Linked DNA regions of Homo sapiens: all the other regions are reported to be linked to region 6. The links are microRNA targets in miRTarBase. Many come from high-throughput screens and were not tested one by one. Region 6 holds a microRNA gene; each other region holds the end of a gene's coding sequence.
What was found. The annotated mature microRNA hsa-miR-21-5p reads UAGCUUAUCAGACUGAUGUUGA and lies in region 6 at 2,782-2,803, opposite strand. An mRNA with a match to its seed (bases 2 to 7 or 8) in the 3' UTR can be bound and repressed. Matches are read on the target gene's strand: a 7mer-m8 pairs with bases 2 to 8, a 7mer-A1 pairs with bases 2 to 7 and ends in A, and an 8mer does both.

Region 1 (4,170 bases), not on the chromosome of region 6:
ATAGTTCCAGATATTTTTTAAAAGCAATTTCTGTTAAAGAGTACATGATTGTATGGTGAACAAGGAAAATAAAATGTTCTAGTAGGAAGAGGCTTATTAAAAATAACCAACAGTGTGCACATGACAGTTACCATTTTTGGAATATATCTGCTTAGCAGTTGGCACCTGGAAATGGTGGGGAAGGCTTCCTTCTAGGAGGTACTTTTTTTTCCTACCAATTTATTATCAAAACCCTCAATACCAGTGGGGAAGGCATAAGGAATAAGGCAAAAGGAACTCTTTTCTTGAGGAAAGAAAAATTTTGTAGATGACTCTGAAAAGTGGTGGAAATATCAGGAAAAAAATGACTTATAAAACAAAAATTGTAATATAAGGGGGAAAAACTAGCCATGAGGAAGCTGACTGTGAGGCCCTGCTAATTTTGTATTTTGAGGTCCTATGCACGCAGTTCTCAGTGGTGCCCTCTGTGACATATAGGGAAGGAAATACTGACCAAAGCTCTAGTAATTCAAAACCATATATCGACTTCAGAGAAGAAAGCTTCCACTTTGAAATATGGAAGCCCCACGTATTACACCAAATTTACTAACATCAAAGAGGAAAACAAAGATGCCAGTAAAAGACAATTCACAGGAAGCATAATTACTTTCTTTAGCTTCTAAAAATAATTTTTAAATGGACTTCTCTATTATCCCTCCTAACTCAAAATCAAATAAACAACAACAACAACAACTTTTTAAAAAGGGGATTCATCCTTCATTGGCAGTTGCTGTGGGAAAAAAGAAAGCCAAAAAGCTCATAAAATATACCTCCCATGAAATACAATACATAGTTACAATTTCGGTTCTAAAAGCCAATGTAATTCAAGCAGTCCAAGTTAGGTGATTTTAAAGTATGCAAAATATATAGCTTCGAAGGTGGTAATCATGATGTTAAATTACAGCACTTTGGGGGCTTGCTGATTTGCCTTGATTAACTGTTCTCTGAAAAGGAAGGAGACACTCTACATGTAATTTGCCACTTCATAGCAAAGGAACCATTAAGCCCACAGAAGAGAGCACAGTGTCACAGCAGGTCACTTCCATAGCTAAAATGCAGCCTGCTTGCTCTGGGAAGGTAGCTTTCTTTGTACACCACCCCTGTGCCCTTTAGCAGGGAAGTAGATTTCAACTTCTAGTCACGTCACTTAGAAAAAACTCCTCTGATGGTGACCAGTCTCACTCAAAGACAGACTGCATCTAATTCCATCATCCTGAAAGGAAGATGTCACAACCAAAGTCAAACGGATGTGACTATAATGGCCAAAATGAAATGGAACGTGTGGGAGGCCAAGTTGGGAGGGAAAAGAGAAGTTAGGTCGGTAAGATAAAAAGAACATTCAAAAATTGTGAGATATTTTCAGAATTAGACTTCATCTTGGGGCTTTGTTTGAAAATCTAGATATGAATTTATTTGGAAGTACTAGAGCTATGGTCAAAGTATTTTTCCAGTTAGTCCTGTTAGAGTTCCAAGGAGAAATTGAACTGCAGGGAAAGCAAATAATTACTAAGGACAAGACACTGGCTGAACTAGAGAAACTGAAATTTTGCTAACCTACAAGCTTCTTAATTGAGTGCTAGAGAATTACATAATTACCCTGTAGTGTGTGACGTTAAGAGCAAAGTTTTTATATTTACTTTTCTCCTGATTAATTGCCCTCGATGGTGTTAGTGTCAAGTGGCTACAGGTGTAACCCTTTTAATTGAGAATGACATTATTTCTAGCAGCACAATGTAACCATTTGGTTTTTACTTGTTCCTCCTAAGAGATACAGAAAGTTCCAAATCCCAAACTTCATTTATATATTAGCTTCTGCTTCTAAAATTTTTAATCCCATTCTGAGTTAGATTGTACTTGGCTTATGACTAAAAATATAATTTCAATTTATAGATGAGGTCTAAAGATCCAAGTTGATCCACCTAAAAACACAGATCAATTTAGGACAGAAACAGAAATCTGGACATAGATAAATAAACTTGTTAAGTTGCAGTGGTGTTTATAAAAGTAGGTGGGCATCCCTTACCATTTGTGGTGAAAAAATCATCTTTGGACTGCAGGGAAGCATTAAAATTACATCCTAGCAACCCACAGAGTTCAGAGGGCACCAATGAAAGATGTGAGCAACGGATGAACTCCTTGTTTATTAACAGAATTTACAGACTTCATTTTAGTTGGCAAAAATACTTCAAAAAATATATACCTAATGCACAAGGAAAACCAAAGAAAGTCAATATAATTGAAGGAGTTCTCAAATTACAATTCTGAAACTTACCCTCTGTAGGGTGCTGCTAACGCTACTATTCATCCTAGAGCAGGCAGTTACCAACACCTTGCCTGCAGTGTCCAGTGTATGTGCTGGTCTGCAATTTTTAGGGTCAATCACGGCCCCGTGTGGAAAGAGCTGCGGCAGTGAAGTCAGAGGACGTGCTTCTGGAGCTGGTGTGAGCAGTTCTGCCTTCACCATATCTTTTTCCACTCCACCCTTGGCTATCCTTTTGACTCAGGGCCCTTTGGCACCATCAGTGCAAAAATTAGAGTCAAACCTCCAGGTACTAAAATTTTACTGGCCTTATAATCAGCAGTACCTGTGGCTAATGATAGCCATGATTCAACTCAGTAGTGATTCAGTTAGATAACCTTCCCAAACTCTTTACCCACTCCCATCCCACCCTTTCCTTAGCAACCCCCACCCCTGCCACTATCCGAAGCATTTCCATTTGTTTTTACTTCCTGCTCAATCTGCAGGGACAGTTTTACACAAGTGCCAATGTCTAATGTATAATTATAAAAATGAAATGATACCAAGAATAACAAATTTATAGTCAAGAAAATAAAATTTGCTTTCCTCTCCCACCCAAATCCCAACCCTCAATAGAAAAGACGACAATGGAAGAAAACACACCCATTTTCAAGTGCCTGCTATTTAGTATGTTGAGGATTCCTATTAATTGTGGTTGATCCCAGCTACAGAGAAGAGGTGCTTGCCTCAGGGCGGGAGGAAGCCCATCCACTCTCTGACCACACCACCTGGGCACATAAGAGCCACACGGCATAGCATACCTTTGAGGTGACCCTCAGAGAAGCAGCCTACTGGACAGCAGAGAGCTTGGAATACTGTATAGTGAAGCAAGGTGCTCCTCCCTTCCCCGTCTCACTTCCTCCTCTTCTTAACCTCTCTACCCAACTTCTGCATACTCCATCCTGACCTCTTTGCTTCAGGAGCAGTTGATCCTTGGGTGTACTAAAGACAAAGGTCTAAAACTCTCACTACTCAATTAAAACAAAACAAGGCAAATAAAAATTAAAATGTGCTTTCAAATACGGAATGAAGTCAAATAAATACATCTGATTTTCTCTTTTTCTTAAATCTAAGTACAATTTCATATCCTACACCCAAAGCTCTATACATTTGGTTTTTATTCTGAATCAAAATGAATTTCCGATAGTGAGGAGAGTAGAGTGAGGGAATGGATATTCCCTCACAAACAGATTAGTGCAGCTGCCACACTGTGAAGAACTAGTCCCACTCTGGGCACCTTGGGACTTGACTAATCCCAGGTGGTTCACAGGCAGATCCTCTGTCACACTCTCTCTGCATCCACACTGGAGCCAGGATGTGGTGAGACACGGCCGATACTCCAAATCCAACAACCTGCAGTCACCTCCAGGACATGCGGCTCTAACTTTTATCTGAGAAGAATAAAGATACATGGAAATGATATTAAGAAAAAGAATATACTAACATTGCAAAGAATACCCATGACATCTGTGGGCGTGGTTCAATCTTTGTTTCTGAATCAGTATGTAAGCAGATGAGTATAAACTGCTGCAGGGAACACAAATCCATCTGCAGTCAGGGGAGACACCAGCCACACTGTCAGCAGAGGCAAGTGCACCAACATCCAATAAGGCCAAATCCTCCACACTAGGGAGTCACAGCAGTACCAGTAAGCCTCACACCGAATCTGTGATTTACCAGGCTTCCCACTGCTCTGCCTTCTGCTTTGAAAAGGTGAAAAGAGAGAGAAGAGGGGATGGTATGGGAACTGACAACTGCAGTTCCTCTTAGAGAAGAGTAGAGTCAGCAGGCATGAGCTTCCGCTTGATATCTGATGTTTAGAAACAGGCAGT
Region 2 (4,170 bases), not on the chromosome of region 6:
ATGGCAATTTTTCTGTACGTGCTTTTCTAACAGTGCCTAGGAATGATGGTTTTTGCCTAAAAACAGGAAAGTTGGGTCGTCTTTATTGGAGCTTTCTTGCCATAGTCAAATAGAAAATAATCAGTGATGAGTATCATCTAACAAATTGATGGCTGACCTTAATGGAACATACTCAAAAGCTATCTTTTAAGCATTTGCTACTTTAATTAGAACAATTCATTCAGTATCACTGTTACAATATTCCATGACTCTTATTTTCAATATACTCAAAGCAACTTGAAAGTTTTATAAATTCTTTACTACAGTATTACCCGCTTATTCTGACACATAAAAGCTCTGTAGTTACACACTGTTAACATGTTAATGGCACATCTTACTAGCAACTTGCTGCACTTCTGTTATCAATAGAGGTTATGTGAAATACTTGGATAAGGACAGCCTGATTCTGTAGAAAATATCTGTTTTCTATAGAACAAAATATCTCCCAGTGGTAATTCAGCAAATTAGGTTCAAGAATGTGGGTAAAGGTAGGTGTAATGTTGGATTCTGAAGATCTACCTGCAGAAACAGATCTACCTACAGAAAGGCACGTAGAATTACTGTTAGGAAACCTAAGCAGCCTTAGCACCATGGTCAAGGTTTTAAAAACCTGATCTGTAACTGTTATGGGTTCATTTCCTAATGCAGAGAAACTGGCTAGTACACACAGTGTAGATTTAATGTGGGAAATATGACAACTTGGAAATGCTACCCAAAGATAAAAATCTAAAGACTATCAAAATTTGCTGTTTTCTAAAATCATACATTAGAATTTTGTGAAGTCTTCTGAATGACACAAAACCAGATGAAGGGAATCAGACCAAAATTACCTGAGTAAGGCCATTTCAAGTGCCTAACAAAGATGGTCAATATTAACTTGAAAAACCAGTGTTTCCTAAGTGTTCCTGATCAGAATTACCTGAGGTATTCCTTACAAATAAATTCTGAGGCCCATTCTCTTAAAGATTCTGGCTTAGCGGGTGGTACGTCTGGATTGAAGGCTAAGAATCTGTACCTTAAGCAATTCTAATTATCAGGCAAGTTTCGAAAATAGGGCTAAGCAGGAGTGTGTGTGTGTGTGTGTGCATGTGTCTGTCTGTGTGGAGGGGGGAGCGGGGAACAGGAACAAAGGAACAATACCAGCACTGTCTGGTCCCCTCATTCAAATACTGCCTGAAAAACTACCTGAGAATGAGAAACATTCAACTGAAGTTGAGGAATTATCTACAGAACACTGTTTATTTCAAGTCCAAAACACAAATTACTCATTTTTCTTAACAGACCGCATAATTTTTTCTGCATGAATATTTAGGGTTTCTCTATTCACAAGTACAGTTTATTACTAGACTTTAGGCTTGAATGATTCATATATATAGATATCAGTTTACTACAGAGGACATGTACTTTTAACATTTTTTGTTTAGAAAATATTTTACATAAAAACACAAAGCATTTACCAACACTCCACAACCAGTCTTCAGCAAAGATTTGGCTGAAGATAACTTTCTACAAAACACTCCAAGACTGAATAGAATGTAGTATTTTACATACTTTAGCTTATTGTTGCAGTTAAAAGCTCCCCCTTGTTTGATGGCTTCTGCATGTATCTACAAAGCAGAAGTCTTAACTGGTGACCTGTTAAATAACATTGCCTTTTTAAGTGAACTTGTCCCCAGCCCGGAACCTAAGTAGTCATAATGAAATAAAGTAATTGATATATGAGGGGCTTTTAGTAAGGGCTTTTTCAACCTAATAAAATAATAATTTAGTATCTATCAGTGCAATATTCTTTTACTGTTTTGTGTTCAATAACCACCTGGAGTGCTAATTGTCTAGTATAATCAGTTGGCATCAAAATAGAAAGTAAAAAGATGTACATTTAATATACCAATTCTTACCTGAATAATCTTGGATTTCTGGAGAATGTTCCACAAAGTGGAATTTCTTCCTAAAGTTATGCTGAATGTGGTACAATGTGTACAACTTGGTTAACCAGTGCCTGCTTTTCATTTCCAAGATTTTTCCTTATCTTGAATCAAATGCACAATCTTACAACTGTATCATAATGCACTGGCTTACAGTTCTGTATATAAAGTCCAACTCAAGCTTATTTTGGTTTATTGTACATGCTTTATTAAAATGGTACTTGTATTTACAGTATCTGCAGAAAGAGTCCCTTCCAAGGCCTCACACATTCAGACACATCCATACTGACACCCACTCCACAGCCCCATGCACCCACACCAGTGAGATGTGGAGGGTCAGACTCCTAAAATTAGGCAGCTGTTGGGGATAAGAGTTGATTTGTTTTTCAATTTTTTTGAAAACAGAAAAGCATGGGGGAATGCATTTGGCCATTACAATGCTAATTGAGTTTGTGTATATTACATATATGGCAGTTAACACTGTAATATTCCTTTTACATTCTATATACACAGAATGATATCAAGGTTTTATGGTCAACAGAATATTCCAACTTCAGTCTTAATGCTGCTTGTAGTGATTTCTGAATTCATTATAGGGGCTTTCCCTAAAAATAATTCAAGTCTATGTTAAGTGAAATAAGGCACAATTAATATTGATTTGATTTAGGGAAAGGGAAGGAAAGAGAAGGGATAAAAACTGGTTTCAAATGATCTTTCTGTTGGGGAACTAGCTCTGACTTAAACCCACCTGAAATTCCTTCTCCTAATTTCCAAAGATTTCTTTATAAAGATATTTTTCTTTTCCCTGACAAAGCCAAAAAGAAAAGTTTGGGAATTCACATTTTAATGTTTCAGTAGCCTGAACAACTCAAATTGATGTGTACCCCCACCTCCCCTGATCAGGTCGCCTCCCTCACCCATGTTAAAATAAAAACACAGTATGTGACACAGGAGTCCCTTGATGTTTCTTGAGGAGATCTGTACACTTGAGTAGCAAATACATATCTGGTTGTCTTCAATATATTTTAAAAAGAAAGAAAGAGAAAGAAGAAAGGAAAGAAGGAAAAAAGGAAGGAAAGAAGTAATATTGTGACTTTCTTGCTCTTTAAAAAAATCCCTGTCTCCTTCTTTTCAGGATGATGAAGCCCCACTAGACATTACAAACAACTGCAACAAATGAGTTTGGCAGCATAAATAATGTCTAGTTATTCAAATCTTCATAGTGAGATTAATTTATCTTGTACACAATTTGTTGAATGTTTTTCGCAGCAGGTGAATCAAACCCAAAGACTCCGGACAGTCTGTGAAAGGGAGTAAGAATTGCAGTTCTGAAGGCCCCTGACTTTGGTTGTTTACAAAGTTCAATCCTGTTTATTGTGATCCTTGGTATCTTCTTCATCTGTATATTCTGATGGTTCTTCTCCTGGTTTTAGGAGTCTGCCTACATAATCATATTTTTCTGAAAGATACATCAAAAGAAAATCAGTGGTGATCAAATTTGTTTCACTATTCCATTATACAGAGAAAAGGCATTTGTCTGTTTTAGAATCATATAAAATATGATTATTAGAATATTATCTAAATATTCTAAAATTGCTTCACCATGGCTGGTCTTTATACACATGTAAAGCCTGAACAAAAGAAAACAGGATTAGGGAACTTATAAGGCTTGGGAATTCTTTGCAAGAGGGTGTTCTGTACCAGTGATTCTTAGTTGGATACTGCATCAGAATCACTTGGAGATCTTTTTTAAAAATGAGTAAGTCCAGGACCCATCTCAGTACCCAGCTAAACCAGAACAGCTGTTCCAAGGGACCCAGGGGTCAGATAAACAGCTGGGACAGCATCACACAAGTGGTAAAAACTGATGTTATGAGGGCATAAGAAAGGGGAAAGATATTTTTTATCTACATTTCGAGTGTTAAGATCTGTAAAATCATTTTGGAATAAATTATAGTATTGAAATCAGTAATCAACTCAGTTTTAAATATAAGCCTGTATTTTTAAAAAACTAAACCTTAATGAAGAAGCTGACTGTAAGTATCACAATTTTTGAGGCTTAGAATTTGTAACAAGTCATTTTTTTAAATATTGATTTTCAAAATAATTATCACATGTAACAATCATATTTTTATTTAGCTATTTTTTGCAATTTCTTTTTTTGGACAAGTCTCACTATGTTGCCCAGGTTAGTCCTTGAACTCCT
Region 3 (4,170 bases), not on the chromosome of region 6:
GCTTCCTTCCAAGACTTCTAGACTCTGGTAACAGTAGCCTCTGGCAATGTGTGGCTGTTTAACCAAAACTGAATAAAATTTAAAATTCAGTTCCTCAGTTGCATTAGCCATGTTTCCAGCGCTCAATAGCTGCATAAGGCTAGTGGCTACTGTATTGGATGACACAGACTTGGACCATTGATCATCGCAGAAAGTTCTTTTGGACTGTGCTGCTCTAAAGCATTTGTGTTTTGTCCTGGGAGTACCACTTTGTAGAGCAGGTGTTGACACAGTGCTGGCTGAAATGGCCCTTCCTCCCTTGCCCCATGGAGGCTGAAATGGCCCTTCCTCCCTTGCCCCATGTCTGATGGAATAAGGTGCTGAAATGCTTGCTGATGTTCTTGCAAATCAAGTGTTGGGAGTTCACTAGGTCTCATCTCTCTCTTCTGCCGACAGTGTTGGAGAGCTGGCTGGACTACACTGGGGAACTGGAGCCCCCTGAGCCGCTGGCCAGGCTTCCGCAGCTCAAGCATTGTATCAAGCAGCTGCTGATGGACCTGGGCAAGGTGCAGCAGATCGCCCTCTGCTGCTCAACATGAAACTGGGCACCCAAAACTCATGGGGGCACAATCCTGGGGCACCTGCAGGAGGAGCTTCGCATATTTAAATAAATAAACCTAGCATGCTGAATGCACGTGACACCGACTGACTTCAGGGATCTGGGCCAGGAGTGTGGTGGACATTGGACAAAGAGGCCATTTTGGCTGCGGGAGGACACTCTGATCTCGAAGCCTGCCATAAAGGTAGCAAATAGACTCTTGGGATTCCCCTCTTCTGTGCACATCGTTGAATGAAGAGAGTCTTTTTGCACAAACTTCACTTGAAATTGTGCCACTGATGATAAACGGAATGAGAGCCAAAAAAGTTTAGTTGGAGACAGTTGTAAATTCAATTTGGAGTTTATTTAATTGACTTTTCTATCACGTTGGGGCACATGCCAACTCCCTGGTTTCTTCCTGGCATGGTGTTTGGGCAGCAGGCATCATTTTCCTTTTCTAGCTTCATAGGAATATTGTGAGCTCACCATGCTGTGGAGGTTGGGAAAGAGCAGAGTCTTGGCTGCCCTGCTTTCTCCTTAGGACTCTTCACTTTTCTCACCACATCTCTTGCATGACTTCATGGTACTGGGGACAAGTTTGTATGCCTTCACCCCAGAGCTGGCTGGGTTATGGCTTTTGTAGCAGAGCCCATACAGCCTATGGAAGAACTAGAATCTCACTCACAGTAATAAGAATCTAGGAGGAATTCCAAACCGAAGCAGGCAGGGTCTGGAACCCAAAGGACAGCATTTTCTACCCACTTCTTAATATTGACAGCTTCCCCGTTCTATTTAATGTCCAAAAATGTTTCCCAAAATTTCAAACTCTTTCACTGTAAAGATTTGTTACAAAGAATGTGGTTTGGGGAATTACCTTATTTTATATTGTTGTAAACAAACTTCAAATTCTACATGTGCGACTTTTCTCCTTCCTGAAGGGTGTTTAGTAGTCAGCGTTTTCAGAATTGTTTTGTTACTATACTTTAACATTTTACATTTCCTGTTTGTATTATTTTGTGAGAGCAAGGTGATCATGCTGCTTAAGGTCCAGGTACAACCTATTTGTACCTTTTGAGACAATATTTGTGTTACTTTTGCAGGTTACGGTTCCACATGTAATTGCTATATTTTGTTTTGTTTTTCCTTACTAGGCAAAGTTAAAATGTTCCATGCTTTGAGGAGTGACCCATTTCACTACTTTGTTTTCTTATCACTAAAGGCAAAAATCAAAGCACAGTTGTCCATTAACACTTATAAGTTAATTATGGGTTTATGAGTCTGTAATGTTATATGCTGCAAACATTTACTATGTAAACGTGAAGTAGCCAATAATATCTCAATAGTAGTAACAGTATCTTTAGCGACCTTTGGAATAGTTAAGCACAGGTCATTGTGGACATGAATTCAGGCCTCTGTACTAAAATCTATTTCAGGGAATGTTCTGTCTAGTGATTTGCTCACCATTTGATATATAATGAATTATAGGACAAGTATAAGCTGATCTGCTATAGCTGTCCATCAGAGAGAATACACGTGGCTATAACATCTATAACAAAACGACGATTCCTCTACAAGAGGCTGTTTCTCACTGCTAACGTTGGTGTTTCTGGCGTGGGAAGAAATGCACAGGCGTGCATGGCATGCACGTTCAGACAGCTGCATTGTAAGAGTTCTGTCATGCAGTCTGAAAAGGGAAGAAACAGGATGGCTTTCTGTAGCCACACCTGTGAGGCGTGATGATTGTTGTATTATTAGATTACTGATTTTTCTTTTCTGAAAATACATTTGAGTTTTAATCACATCTGTGGAAGCTGTAACTTTTAAGGTAGTCAATTTCATGTCTTGTTCAACGATGTAAGCAGAAACTGAATTGCCCTAATTTTGCCAACTGGCCATTATTGGGATTATTGTTTAAATTTTTGGTAAAGGAAGTAATCTCCTTTCATTCATTGTGACTTTTGTTCTTAGGGAAGCAGAGAAGACTCCCCAAGTTCTTATAACCTCATTGTGCTTCCCTAATTTAAAGCCATGTTGAGGGGCTCCATTCCCAATTCCTGGGTCAAGGTGAATTAACCCTATGTTGGAGCACTGGAAACCGTTATTTGCAAACATTGCTGTTACCATTTAGAAATATGTGCACTATCAGCTGGGTGCAGTGGCTCACGTCTGTAATCCCAGCACTTTGGGAGGCCGAGGCAGGTGGATCACCTGAGGTCAGGAGTTCGAGACCAGCCTGGCCAACAGGGTGAAACCCCGTCTCTACTAAAAGTACAAAAATTAGCTGGGCGTGGTGGCGGACGCCTGTAATCTCAGCTACTTGGGAGGCTGAAGCAGGAGAGGTGCTGGAACCTGGGAGGCGGAGGTTGAAGTGAGCCGAGATTGCGCTATTGCACTCCAGCTCGGGCGACAACTGCAAGACTCCATCTCAAAAAAATAAAAATAAAAGAAAAGAAAGAAATATGTGCACTACCTAAGTTTTGTCTTTAGAAAAACTATCCACCTATAAAAAATTACCTTGACAAAAATAGTTCCGGTTTGACTAATCATTTTGTTTCTTTAAGTGGTAAGTGTATGCAAGGTGGATCCTTGATGAGCCAACATTGCACTGTGGATACATATCTATGTTTACGCGCTATTAGAACAGAAGGCGCTGTATATAGAAATGTTGCTTTGAAGCAATATTTGCAAAACACGCAGACTTCTGTATCTGTATTTGGAAAAAATAAAACAGGTTCTTGTTGCTATGTTTCAGTTACGTATTGTTGAGTTACAGTCATGCATCATATAACGTTTCTGTCAACCATGGACCCCATATACAGGGTGGTCCCATAAGATTATAATGGAGCTGAAAAATTCCCATCACCTAGTGATGTCCTGATGGTCCTACTGCATAGGCCTAGGCTAATGCGTGGATTTGTCTTAGTGTTTAACAAAAATCTAAAAAGTAAAATATATATAAAAAATTTAAACTAGAAAAAAACTCATAGAATAAGGATATAAAGAAAATATATTTGTATAGTTGTACCATGTGTGTAAACACAAAGTGTTATTACAGAAGTCAAAGTTAAAATTTAAAAGCTTACAAAGTATAAAAGTTGGTCAGGCAAGGTGCCTCAGATCTGTAATCCTAGCACTTAGGGAGGCTGAGGATGGAGACCCTGTCTCTAAATAAAAGGCTGGGTGCCGTCGCTCACGCTTGTAACCCCAGCACTTTGGGAGGCCAAGGCGGCCAGATCACCTGGGGTCAGGAGTTCAAGACCAGCCTGGCAAACATGGCAAAACCCCATCTCTACTAAGAATACAAAAATTAGCATGGTGGCGCATGCCTGTAGTCCCAGCTACTTGGGAGGCTGAGGCAGGAGAATTGCTTGAACCCAGGAGGAGGAGGTTGCAGTGAGTCGAGATCGTACCACTGCACTCTAGCCTGGGCAACAGAGTGAAACTGTCTCAACAAAACAAAAAACAAAAACAAAAAGTTATGGTGAACTAAGGCTAATTTATTATTGTAGAAAGAAAATTAAAAAAAATAAGTTTAGTAGTTCGTGACCAGCCTGGGCAACATGGTGAAACCCCATCTCTACAAAAATTAGCCA
Region 4 (4,170 bases), not on the chromosome of region 6:
ATTAGCCAGGCATGGTGGCGCATGCTGCAGTGAGCCAAGGTTGCACCACTGCACTCCAGCCTGGGTGACAGAGTGAGGTTCCGTCTCAAAAGAAAAAAAAAAAAGGAACAGAATAATAGCAATATTTGTTTGCTCAGTGTTCAGATGGGATGTCTAGCTATACATCAATGATTGTTCAAAATATGCTCAGGGGCACAGATGCCGGTACTATCCTAAATTCAGGAGAACAGAACCACAGGGATTTGCAAAGTGATATTAGAGGAAAACAGTTGGTTGCTTTTACCAACACTTTCTATTAAAAGCATGGTCATGTTTTAAGAGTTTATAAAGATGTTAAAGACACCTGGGCCACCTGTTTCTTCTGGCCACAGACAAGCTATTTGAAGTGGGCTATACTGCTTACATGCTTTCCTCACTTTCCGCCCTCAGTAATTCTCCAATTTTAATTTCAACCTGCATTTCTGCCCATGCTGAGGACATGTAGGAATTCCTTGACTGCCAGCCTGAGGCGTGGCGTGGGGCACTTCAGTCTGCAGTCTGACTACATTTGGCTCTGTGTTAATGCAGCCCGAGCCCTGAACCAGAGGTCTGGACACTGACTTTCATCTCCATCTGTGGAGCTTTGTTCTCTTAAATTGGCAGTCACATACAACCTTGTCAGCATGAAATCAGGGCTTGCAGGAGTTAAATCTGCTTGAAACATCTGACACCACTTTAACAGAACAACCAAACCTGGTTAATCCAAATCACTTTGCAAACTCTGTATTTATTTGGATTAAAAAGCTTTAGATGAACAACAAAAAAAAGATACATACATGTTATAAGACTAGTTACCACGTAAACCTCAGATGATATGATACAGAAATTAGAATAAACCAAGTTTTAATCAGGTATGAAAACATTCAAGCTCAAAATCATCAACACCAATTTGGGGATTTTACAGAAATAGGTGCCCCTCTCAATTCTTCCTCATAGGAAGGGGAGAGTGGCTTAAAAAAAAAACAACAACCAAAACAGTTAAAGGCCTTTTAAATCAGTTGGCTGACAAACATACTGTTTTAAACCTACAGGTTCCCCTCAGTCCCCCCGTTTGCAATATAAACAATTCTTCTCCACAGGAACTTACATTTTGAAAACATTTAGGCCATTATACTTTCTAAGCCACATTACTACAGTTCCTAAAACTTATGAAAAAAAGGTGTATAGTTTACTTGTACTTTCTTGAGTCAATTTTTTTTTCTTTTTTGAAGATGGCTGACCTCAAATCTTATATCCTAAATATTAACGATATCCCCCAAGTTAATATACAGAAAAACATGATTCTAAAATAAATACACAGGCTTTTTAAAAAAAACTTAATTAGGGCCTGTCTAGTGATGCCCTGGGCCGGTGCTGCACTGCTTTAGGGAAGCCCCTGGCTGGATCTATGTTTCCTATAGCACCTCTAGGCACTGGGAAGGAGCCTGGAGGAGAGCTCTGGCTTCTAATGACCCACGTGGCCCCCAGTGAAAAATTTTTTTAGAGGCTCCCCAAAGAAGTCTCATCCAGACCTTAAGGGAAATAAAATGAATGCATGAAATAAATAAATAATTTAACCACAACTAAATTTCATGTTCTTTGGTGTAATTCAAGGATGTCTAGAAACAAAATAATCTGATTGCATTATACAGTCCATGATGATTCAATTGCCCAAATAGCCAGGAATTGAAGATTTATCTGACTCACTTTAACAATAAGGTACTGACACACTACTGCAATACATTTTTTTAAATTCAATATTATTTAAAATACTTGATGCAAATTCAAATCCAGTGGTTGACTAAAGGCAATTAAGTTAAAGGGCCTCCCATATTTAAAGTATCTAGATACAAGAGACTTTTTTCCATTCTACACTCTTTTGCCCTCATGATTTAATAAGTACAGTAATTAAACATCTGGGTACTGATTCATAGCAGATTAAAAGGAAAAAAGCATCCTCTGAGATTAACTCTCTCAGATTATAAACAGCAGTGGAAGCTCTACCACAATGGCAATCACCCAGTTACTATAAAGCAGGTTTCAAAAACATGCCGCCAAGTGAAACAATGTTCCTACTGTCTGCCATCCTATGCTGCCTTCAAATGTTTATTGTAGGGTCATATAAGAAAGACAGGGTCACCAAACCCAAGTGTTTGGGATCTGTAATGGTCTTTCTAGTAAGCGTTTTATTAAATTATGATTCCCTTCTCCTGTAATTCAAAAGCACAAGCTAAATTTAAAAAATATTTTAGAAAGTATTAAATTTCTGGTTGAGAATTATAACAACATTGAAACTTAAAAGAAAAAATACATCTGATAATAAGGAAATAAGGAATACTAAAACATACTTGTATATGAAGGCAATCAATCTACTTGTTCACAATTATGCTTCTTATACAGCTCATATCTAGTTCCATACTCTCTTACCCATGTTAGGTTAGGTGTTATGTTTAAAAATAAATCACCTCCATGCATACCTTAATGCTTTCTTCAAGACGAACTTCAATGTTTTTCAATGTAACAGGTTTAAAATTTTAAATCATCTGAAATTTATAGGCATAAATTGTGAATTCATTATAAATAGATCAAAATATCCTTAAACGTACCTGCCTAGATTAAACATACCTCAGGGTTGTGCACGTGTTCTGCAAAAATCACTGACACCATAGTCTAACTCACAGATGTCTAACTCAGCACAATTGAAAAAGTGCTTTTTCCCCTCCTGGTGTCCAGGAGGTACATTAGCTGCAGACAGATGCACAGCACTGATTACATATTTCTGTAGTGAGCCTCTGAGTTAATAGAGCAAATGTGCTGTGTCTATTAAACATCTAAAACCTAAATAACCACCTTTCAAAGAAAGCACTTCATCTGTAAGAAACAGCTTTTGCAGAAAGTGGCTTAAGATATTCAGGCACATGAAACAAACACAAGTATACTCCCCTCTCTAAGATGTAAACTAGGACAAACTTCACATTTCATTATCAATTTAAACTAATCTGTAAACTCTTGTGTGTGTGTGTTTTTTTTCATTTTGTTCTTTTATATATATATATAAAAAAACCCAAAACCAAGAAAACAAAAACCCCAAGCCAAGACAAAAACCTCTAATGGTTTCAGTTCCATGGCAACAAGTAAAAAGATAAAACTCCAAGTCTACATATACAACCAATTATGAAACTGGTTTTAAACGAAGGAAACATATGCAAAAAAATCTTTGTGTATTTGATAAAGTCAACTTAATATAACAAACAAATTGAAATAGCTTATTAAAAGTGTCCGTATATAAAAATGGCCTTGTGATGTACAGTAAAATGCAATAAAAATTATCCTCCTTTGTTCCTTCCCCCCACCCCCAGTAACTAAAATGGCTACTGATCCACAACTCTTTATGCTTCTATATAAAAGAAACGTAATGATGTGATTAAACATTTTCTAGGTTGTATGCTTGGCGAATGTTGAGGGTGTCCCGGAGCATCAAATCTCGAAGGCGCCAGAGGGCATCTGCCATGGTGGTGTGGGCCCCTTTGCTTTTCAGCCAGTGAGAGGGTAGGCGGCTCTCCTGTTCTTTCGACAAATGGACGTCGCGTCTTCGAGCTGAAAATTAAAGTACAGAGAGACAGAAATTAGAATTTTAAGTTGGCAAAATTTCCCTCAGTTCTAAGGTCTGACGAACTTATTAAAACACAAAACATTGAATATTTATTAAATATTATGAATTTTAACTGCAGAATATTTCCAGGCACATTTCTTATATCATTTTACTAGGCACTAAAAGATTTGATCATAAATTTTTTTTTTTTTTTGACATCGAGTCTCGCTCTGTCGCCCTCGCTGGAGTGCAGTGGCGCGATCTCAGCTCACTGCAACCTCTACCTCCTGGGTTCAAGCGATTCTCCTGCCTCAGGCTCCAGAGTAGCTGGGATTACAGGAATCTGCCACCAAGCCTGGCTGATTTTTCTATTTTTAGTAGAGACAGGTTTCACCATGTTGGCCAGGCTGGTCTTGAACTCCTGACCTCAGGTGATCTGCCTACCTTGGCCTCCCAAAGTGCTGGGATTACAGGTGTGAGCCACTGCACCCGGCCTGATCATTATTTTTTTGTAGGCATCCCTGATATTTAATAATTACTTCAATGTTAACAAAAATTCC
Region 5 (4,170 bases), not on the chromosome of region 6:
TCTGTCTGGAATCTAGTGTGTCCTCTCCGGCATTCCACAATTTTTGTCCTAAAAAGGCTGTCGGGTTGATGATGAAGTCAAATGCACATTAGCTATCTTACTGCTTCTTTACCTCCCAAGCACTAGATTTTCAATGGACATTGTTAAGATCTTGACAAATCACAGTCATTTATGCTTCTAGAAAACACTTTTGATTTCTTGATGTTACATTAAAAATCCCTAAGGGCAGGTGTGTTACTGGGAGATCAGAGAGGTCAGATGAAATGGGACACATATCTCCTCACAAAACCCTTCCTCACATCGCTAGGAGGAACAAGGCGAGGGCTCTTCGTGTCACAGTGAGCCAGCTGCAGCACATCAGTGAGCGTGGGCAGCGGCGTGGTGTTGGTGGTCTCTGTGCGTGATGGTGACTCTTCTTTGTTTGCAGGTCAACGAAGTGACGGTGGAACAGCTGGTGCAGCAGTACCCCCACATCACCTTCAGCACCGTCCTGCAGGACTGCAAGAGGACCTTGGAGAGAGCCTATCAGATGGGCTGGACCCCCAACATGTCTGCCGCCTCCTCCTAGCGCTCCTGCCTCGCCTAGTCCACTGGGATCATTCAGCAGAGCAGAGGAGAATTGTACATTTGGGGAGCTGATCTCTCGGAAGGGTTTTAACTGTCACCTGTCTGTGTGTGTTCAAGTATGTGTATTTGTGTCTTGTTTGCATACTGCATACCAAAAGTGCAGTTGTCATTTGTTCCCAAGTGAGCTGGCTTTTTTTCTTAGAAATTAAAGATTATGAAAGCCACAAACTTTTTAGTTTTTAACTTCAAAGGCTTCTTTCTCTTTAAAAAAAAATTATTTTTAATATAGAGTCAAAAAATTGGATGTATTATTTTGAGCTTCTAATTGCTGCCACTTGGAGATGTCCAAGTAAGAAGGCCTTCTTTTTACATGGGATGAATTGTGCACTTCTACTGATGATGACTACAGCAGAAGTGATGTTATACGTACAGGCACTTACACTCTCTCACATATTCACACGTGTGCACATCTACACCAGGGCTCTGATCTACTCTAGATCGTTTCCTGACAGAGAAGCCTTCTTCCAGGCCACTAAGGTAGCATGTTATCCACTGTGGCACTGCCTAACTCCGTGTATCCTCGGGTGGCCAACTTGCTATCTGGTGGGTGACTTGGGGACTAGAAAGAATAAAGCCTTTTCTAAATTTGTTATATAGAGGCAACAGTCTGAACTCTCCTGGCCAGCTCACGAAAGTTAATTATACATTATTCTACAAATGCATTCTGTTGAGCACTAAATATTTTAGTTGGTTTTATGTTAACATTGTGTTAGCTTTTATTTCCTGGATAGTAACTGGTCAGGATATATTTTAATGATATTTGAAACTAATCTTAGCATTGAAGCCACCAATGTAATTAATGGTGTGCAGTTATTTTAAAAACTACAGATCATTTCATTATTTTCTTAATTTTGGTAATTATTAAAGTCTATTTCTGAGATACGAGAGGGTAGTCACATTAATAGAAGATTCATGAGTGAGATATAAGTAGACAATCTTTCTACTGTTGTTGCTCTTTTTGCTTTGCTTTGGGTTCTTGAACAGGTTTTTTGGATATATGCATGTTGTCATTTTGGACTAGTTCTCATGCTACTGCAAAGATCTATTGCTAGCTAATATATGAGTTAAGAAAGAAAATTAGAAAATCTGTTCATTGAAATTCTGTTTACACTTGTCAGAAATAAGCATTTCTTTGTTTAATTAAGGATTGCCAGCTTCAGTTAAGACAAGACCTATCAGTAAATGAATATATGTTTTGATTTAACACATCTTTACAATTAATTCATAATAGGGACTCAGGCTCAAATAACTGTTCCTGTGTCTAGATTTATAATGAGGACATCAGGGAGCCTTTTTAAGCTAAAGAGTGATTATCTTTCACAGTAGAACTAGAAACAAAACCCTAACTTGTGAAGTTGCTATTTATTTTTCCCTGAGTGAATATAACTGTTATTTGGTCTTTAACAGATATACTGAGGTTTGAGTTTCACTTTCTTTAAGTCTCACATTGCTAACATGACATTAGCTGTAAGAAACAAGATAGCTTTACATTTGAATGCCATTTACTGATTTCTAATGATTCTCTTTTTTTGTAAACAACTGTTTCCTTTGATTATGTCAACATGTTTCTGATGTGGCATTTTTGTTTTAATCCCAATCGGTTAGGAAAATCTAGTCAGTAAGCGCCATGAGTATTCTTCCCATAACTAAATGGGTTTCTAATTTAATTTGAAGGGAATAAAATTTGTGTAAGAAAAAAGCTGTTTAACATTAATAAACTATATTTCTTCTTACACATTGAACTGTATCATTTTCATATCCACTTCCCCACCACTGAAATATCTTATTTCACAATATTTTAACTGATTTTTAATCCAAAACTAATTTATAAGACAGTATGTATAGTAATAGTAGCTTGAGTGAATATGCAAAAGTTTAATTTTTATATATGTCATACTATATTTTAAATAGTTAAAAAAGACAAAAGAAGGGAGAGCCATCTATGATATAGATGGTACCATTTCAGTTCAAAGTTGTAATAACCTTTGGAGTGTTACAGTTTGGTTGTCAAATGGTTTCAGAATGTATAATTGATTTTTTTAAATGTTGCATTGTTTGAATCTAAAGTACAGCACTATAACATGCTTTAGCTTGGGGGGGTGGGGGTGGGGTGGGGACTTGCACTTATTCTCTAAAATGTTGACTAATCCAGAAAGCCTGATGCAACATAATCTGGAAAACTGCTTTGGTACATTTGTAGAAATCCGTAGAAATACCATATCCAGCCTCAAAGCATTAATCTCAAAAAAAAAAAAAAAAAAAAAAAAAAACAGCCAGAAAAAAGCATCACCTTGAGTGGTCCTGTGATGGTTGTTGAATGTGTTCTCATTAGATGCTTTGAAATGAGGCTTAAAATAATTTTTCTGGGCAATATAGAGTTTCTTTTTTTTGCTTAGAATGTCATAAATACATGTGAACACGTTTAATGCAGGGCTTTTTATTCTCTCCAAAATGTCAACAGTATTTTCAGAATAAAGACTATGAAATATATTGCTGTAGTGGAAAATTCTGGTCCTTTGTCTTTAATGTCTTTTTGAGTGGATAAAGAAAATTCACCCGGTTTGTAGTTTCTATATTTCCGTGAATCTTTGACCTTGCAGTGGGTTGCAATAAAAGAGAAACAAAACACTGTGTCTTTTGTTTTATTTTAGAGACAATAAATGACCTCCCCAATGCTGGTTGGGTATGATGCATGCAGTGGTCTGTGTATTTCTGTGTTTCACTACAGACTTATGTAGGTTTGACTAACCCAGAATAATAAACGAGACTGAGTTTAGGAGGTTCTAATTGGGCTGGTGATTATAGAGATAAGATTAAAATCTCAAGGATTTACATAAGTGTGTATTAGTCCATTCTCATGCTGCTAAAAGGGTATACCTGAGACTGGGTAATTTATAAAGGAAAGAGGTTTAATCGACTCACAGAAAACTTAAAATCGTGGCAGAAGGGAAAGCAAACAAGTCCTTTTTCACAAGGTGGCAGGAGAGTGAAGAATGAGAACCAAGCAAAGGGAGAAGCCCCTTGTAAAACCATCAGATATCATGAGAACTTCCTCACTATCACAAGAATGGCATGGGGGAAACCACCCCCATGATTCCATTGCCTCCCACTGGGTCCCTCCCACGACACGTGGGGATTATGGGAACTGCAGTTGAAGATGAGATTTGGATGAGGACACAGCCAAACCGTATCAAATGAGTTGTTAAAATCCCATTTCCTAAATAGTCATCATTTATATAGCCATATATTCTATTTTTCCAAAGTAAATAAATTCATAAAACATTTATTGAGTGACAAATACGTATAGGCACTGGAAATTTAAAGATAAATGAACTCACTCCCACTCTCAAGTTACTCACAGCCTAACAAGGGGACATTGTGGGGCACTAGCAATAACAGTGGAGTACAATAGATATAATGATGGGCATAATTATGGGGAGCGCATCTAGGGCCGAGCAGCAGCTTTGGGAAGGGAGAGCTCCACAGAGGAGGAGGATTTTCATGAAGGCTAGAGAAGTAGCGGGAATTTACCAGCTTTGCTTG
Region 6 (4,170 bases):
AAGCTGGGGTGGTGGAGGTGGATAACTTTTATTGCTGTACTTTTACTGAACTCTTTTTTGTTTGTTTGTTTTGAGACGGAGTTTCACTCTTGTTGCCCAGGCTGGAGTGCAATGGCAAGATCTCGGCTCACTGCAACCTCTGCCTCCTGGGTTCAAGCGATTCCTGCCTCAGCCTCCCGAGTAGCTGGGATTACAGGCATGTGCCACCGTGCCTGCTACATTTTTGTATTTTTAGTAGAGATGTGATTTCGCCATGTTGGTTAGGCTGGTCTCGAACTCAGGTGATCTGCCCACCTTGGCCTCCCAAAGTGCTGGGATTACAGGCGTGAGCCACCATGCCCGGCCCTATTTATTGAACTCTTGGCCTAAAAGGGATCCTCCTGCCTTGGCCTCCCAAAGTATTAGGATTATAAGCATGAGCCACTGCACCCAGCCTATTTCAGTACTTTACATGTTACCAGATTTATTCCTTAGGTAAACTGTCCTTCTATCTCTTTTATTTTTATAGATGAAAGAAACTGAGGCTCTTTTAAACTTTCTCAGGTCACAAACAATGTAGAAGAAACCCGAACCGTCATTAACATAGACTATTACACATGGGGGAAAATGGGTTTTAAAGTAATATATATGGAAAGGCTTTTTGACACTGAAAGGTTGGGAATCTCTGTGATCTTCTTACACATGGGTCAGGCTAAACAATTTGCTTCAGGGTACATGAGCGCAACTGGTTATTTAGCTAGTGCATGATCCATACTCAAATGAGTCATTATTGAATGACTGGTGAAATGACAAAAAGCCTCATGTTCTACTAAGGCTGTGGATAGCACAGAGCACACTGGGGGCAGAGGCTGAGCGTGTTTGTGTAGGAGCACTCAATACTGCATATGTTTCAATAATTAACTAGTGTATTTAAGAAACTTCATTCTACGTGGGCATGGTGGCTCACGTCTGTGAACCCAGAACTTTGGGAGACCGAGGCAGGTGGATCACCTCAGGTCAGGAGTTCGAGACCAGCCTGACCAACATGGCCAAACCCCGTCTCTACTAAAAATACAAAAACTAGCCTGGTGTGGTGGTGGGCGCCTGGAATCCCAACTACTCCAGAGGCTGAGGCAGGACAATCGCTTGAACCTGGGAGGCGGAAGTGGCAGTGAGCCGAGATTGTACCATTGCACTCTAGCCTGGGCGACGGAGCAAGACTCTGTCTCAAAAAAAAAAAAAAAAAAAAAAAAAGTAACTTCATTCTAGCATTCGTAGGGAATGGAGAGGTGGCCACTATCCAAATGAAACTAAAAACCTTTTTCTTCCCAGACTCATACTCCAGATTATGCACACAGAGAATACAGAAAACTATGGGAAAACTGGACATTGCACATTTTCATATGACATCATCTGTTATTTTTTTTGTCTTGCTCTGTCACCCAGGCTGGAGTGCAGTGGCGCCATCTCGGCTCACTGCAAACTCTGCTTCCTGCGTTCAAGGGATTCTCCTGCCTCAGCCTCCTGAATAGCTGGGATTACAGGCGTGCACCACCACGCCCGGCTAATTTTTTATATTTTTAGTAGAGATGGGGTTTCGCCATGTTGGCCAGGCTGGTCTCAAACTCCTGACCTCAGGTGATCTGCCCGCCTTGGCCTCCCAAAGTGCTGGGATTACAGGTGTGAGCCACCGCGCCCGGCCGACATTGTCTGTTTTAAGGGAGGTATTCCTCAGCTCTTCGGTGATAAACTGCTGATGTATTGCACTGCCTGACAGTCACCAAGTTGGAACATGATAAATACTGCAGATGTGTAAGGCACAAAATGAGACTTATACAAAGTAGAGATGGAATCGCAAGAATTCCCAGGCCCTCTTTTTATTTACAGTGATACCAAACCATCCACTTGCAAATTCTTTGGTCTCCCATCAGCTGGAATTAAGTAGGTACTGTGTATCTTTGAGATCATGTATTTGTCTCCACTTTGGTGGATACAAGAAAGGAAGGCACGAACAGCTGAAAAAGAAGGGTATCACACCGCTCCAGCTGGAATCCAGCAGGAACCTCTGAGCATGCCACAGCTGAACACTTAAAAGAGGAAAGAAGGACAGCTGCTCTTCATTTATTTTGAAAGCAAATTCATTTGAAAGTGCATAAATGGTCATCATAAGTCAAACGTATCAATTAGACCTTCAACCTAGGAAACAAAATTTTTTTTTTCTATTTAATAATACACCACACTGAAATTATTTGCCAATGAATCCCAAAGATTTGGTACAAATAGTACAATTCGTATTTGCTTTCCTCTTTCCTTTCTTCAGACAAACACCAAATAAAATGCAGGTGAAAGAGATGAACCACGACTAGAGGCTGACTTAGAAATTTATGCTGACTCGATCTAAAAAAAATTATGTTGGTTAATGTTAATCTATCTAAAATAGAGCATTTTGGGAATGCTTTTCAAAGAAGGTCAAGTAACAGTCATACAGCTAGAAAAGTCCCTGAAAAAAAGAATTGTTAAGAAGTATAATAACCTTTTCAAAACCCACAATGCAGCTTAGTTTTCCTTTATTTATTTGTGGTCATGAAGACTATCCCCATTTCTCCATAAAATCCTCCCTCCATACTGCTGCATTATGGCACAAAAGACTCTAAGTGCCACCAGACAGAAGGACCAGAGTTTCTGATTATAAACAATGATGCTGGGTAATGTTTAAATGAGAACATTGGATATGGATGGTCAGATGAAAGATACCAAAATGTCAGACAGCCCATCGACTGGTGTTGCCATGAGATTCAACAGTCAACATCAGTCTGATAAGCTACCCGACAAGGTGGTACAGCCATGGAGATGTCACGATGGTAGGCAAAACAAGCAGACAGTCAGGCAGGATTTGATAAAAAAACAAAAACAAAAACAAACCAAAAAAACCCAGGCATTTCTGGCCTGTTAAGATCGAACCCCAATTCTATTCTATTCTGACATAATGCTCATAATGCTCCTAAAGGAAAAAAGTAAAATTGTTTATTTTCCTCCCAAGCAAAACAAAATGAACAAGTTCAATCAAAAACATCCCAATGGAAAAAAATCACACTAAGAATAAAACACTTACAGAACGGCAAGAAAACTGGGTTAACATATAAATTTGTGTCTGTTGAAACCAGAGTACATGCTAGAAAACATTAACACAGATACGACAGAGTGTGGTTTTTTTTTAGAAATGGGTAATTTCTCTCTCCAGTATCCTTTCACTTGTATGAGATATTTCTCCTCTCCTGTTTTCACAAACCAAGAAATCCCCAGGTAGGCCAATCCCAGAGGTGCCATTTAGCAGTATGCAGCAGCCCAGTTTCAGCATAACAAAACATGCCTTGGTAGTGGCTCTCTCATGCAAATAAAAGAAAGCTTAAGAAATTCTTGTTGTAGGTGGATTAGGCAAGGCTGCCATTCAGCTGGTATAAGCTAAAAGTAAAAAATCAAAACGCTCAAGAAAACGGACACAATTTTGGAATGATTAAAGATGTCTTTATAAAGTTTTTTTCAAGACTTCATTCTAAATACACAGAATAAAAAATGGTGTCAGCTCACTTGTAAGACACCAACCAGATTTTCCTTATACTGTCTCAAAATTTAAAGATCAATTTCCCCAGAGGGTGTGCAATGCATCATAAAATGGCCCTTTTTTGAGGATGGGAGAGGAAGGGTTGGGCAGGATGGAATATTAAATTGTAACATGATAAACATGCAAGACTGTTATCCAATCTAGATAATTTATATACATTTTGATGACTTAGGAAAACAAAGCAATCATTTGTGACAAGCCTAAAAAGCTTGACATATTTAACATACTTAGGAACTTTTTTTGTGCGGTGGGAATTCTCTAATTGTATCATGTGGGCCTTTTGAAAGTAACAAACAGAAGGCCAGTCTGTTGCAAGTTTGCTGCTGAACATCACATTCCACCCTAAGAAAACACAAGGTGGATTGCATCGAGGGTGGATACCTTACCTTAGCACAGAAGGAAAAAGTATGTCAGTGCAAAGTATGGACTAAACTGCTTTCAGGAAAAAAGTTGTAAAAATTGATACAGGTTGGAAAAGGGAATTTTCCTTCCCGGCTTGGAGTCCTCCCAATTTAAGGCAGAACCCATCCACTCCAATTTCTGCAGTTTAAAACTTTCTCTACTTATTT

Region 1: miRTarBase lists ARHGEF12 as a target of hsa-miR-21-5p. The part of its 3' UTR that is shown has no 7-base or 8-base seed match.
Region 2: miRTarBase lists PGRMC2 as a target of hsa-miR-21-5p. Seed matches in the 3' UTR shown: 7mer-m8 at 2,144-2,150 and 8mer at 1,593-1,600.
Region 3: miRTarBase lists PHF20 as a target of hsa-miR-21-5p. Seed matches in the 3' UTR shown: 7mer-m8 at 2,070-2,076.
Region 4: the mRNA of PBRM1 is a reported target of hsa-miR-21-5p. Seed matches in the 3' UTR shown: 8mer at 3,281-3,288.
Region 5: the mRNA of FBXL17 is a reported target of hsa-miR-21-5p. Seed matches in the 3' UTR shown: 7mer-A1 at 1,923-1,929.

The regions. Positions count from the first base shown.
Region 1 is chr11:120,484,626-120,488,795 of GRCh38, reverse strand. It overlaps ARHGEF12 (Rho guanine nucleotide exchange factor 12), which reads right to left. Exons shown (of 41, transcript NM_015313.3): 41 at 1-3,729. The coding sequence ends at 3,719. Among named protein-coding and RNA genes, the nearest start is that of GRIK4, 25 kb to the left of the region's middle. RefSeq lists a cis regulatory region at 3,188 and an enhancer at 3,116-3,260.
Region 2 is chr4:128,267,991-128,272,160 of GRCh38, forward strand. PGRMC2 (progesterone receptor membrane component 2) reads right to left here. Exons shown (of 3, transcript NM_006320.6): 3 at 1,252-3,423. The coding sequence ends at 3,326. Among named protein-coding and RNA genes, the nearest start is that of PGRMC2, 18 kb to the right of the region's middle.
Region 3 is chr20:35,947,050-35,951,219 of GRCh38, forward strand. PHF20 (PHD finger protein 20) reads left to right here. Exons shown (of 18, transcript NM_016436.5): 18 at 436-3,321. The coding sequence ends at 578. Among named protein-coding and RNA genes, the nearest start is that of SCAND1, 5.4 kb to the right of the region's middle.
Region 4 is chr3:52,544,621-52,548,790 of GRCh38, forward strand. PBRM1 (polybromo 1) reads right to left here. Exons shown (of 32, transcript NM_001405607.1): 32 at 747-3,615. The coding sequence ends at 3,443. Among named protein-coding and RNA genes, the nearest start is that of UQCC5, 10 kb to the left of the region's middle.
Region 5 is chr5:107,858,118-107,862,287 of GRCh38, reverse strand. FBXL17 (F-box and leucine rich repeat protein 17) reads left to right here. Exons shown (of 9, transcript NM_001163315.3): 9 at 428-3,253. The coding sequence ends at 568. Among named protein-coding and RNA genes, the nearest start is that of EFNA5, 190 kb to the right of the region's middle.
Region 6 is chr17:59,839,906-59,844,075 of GRCh38, reverse strand. MIR21 (microRNA 21) reads right to left here and starts at 2,810; the gene lies at 2,739-2,810. It overlaps VMP1 (vacuole membrane protein 1), which reads right to left. Exons shown (of 12, transcript NM_030938.5): 12 at 1,821-4,170. The coding sequence ends at 4,165. RefSeq lists a silencer at 1,555-1,749 and an enhancer at 3,035-3,764.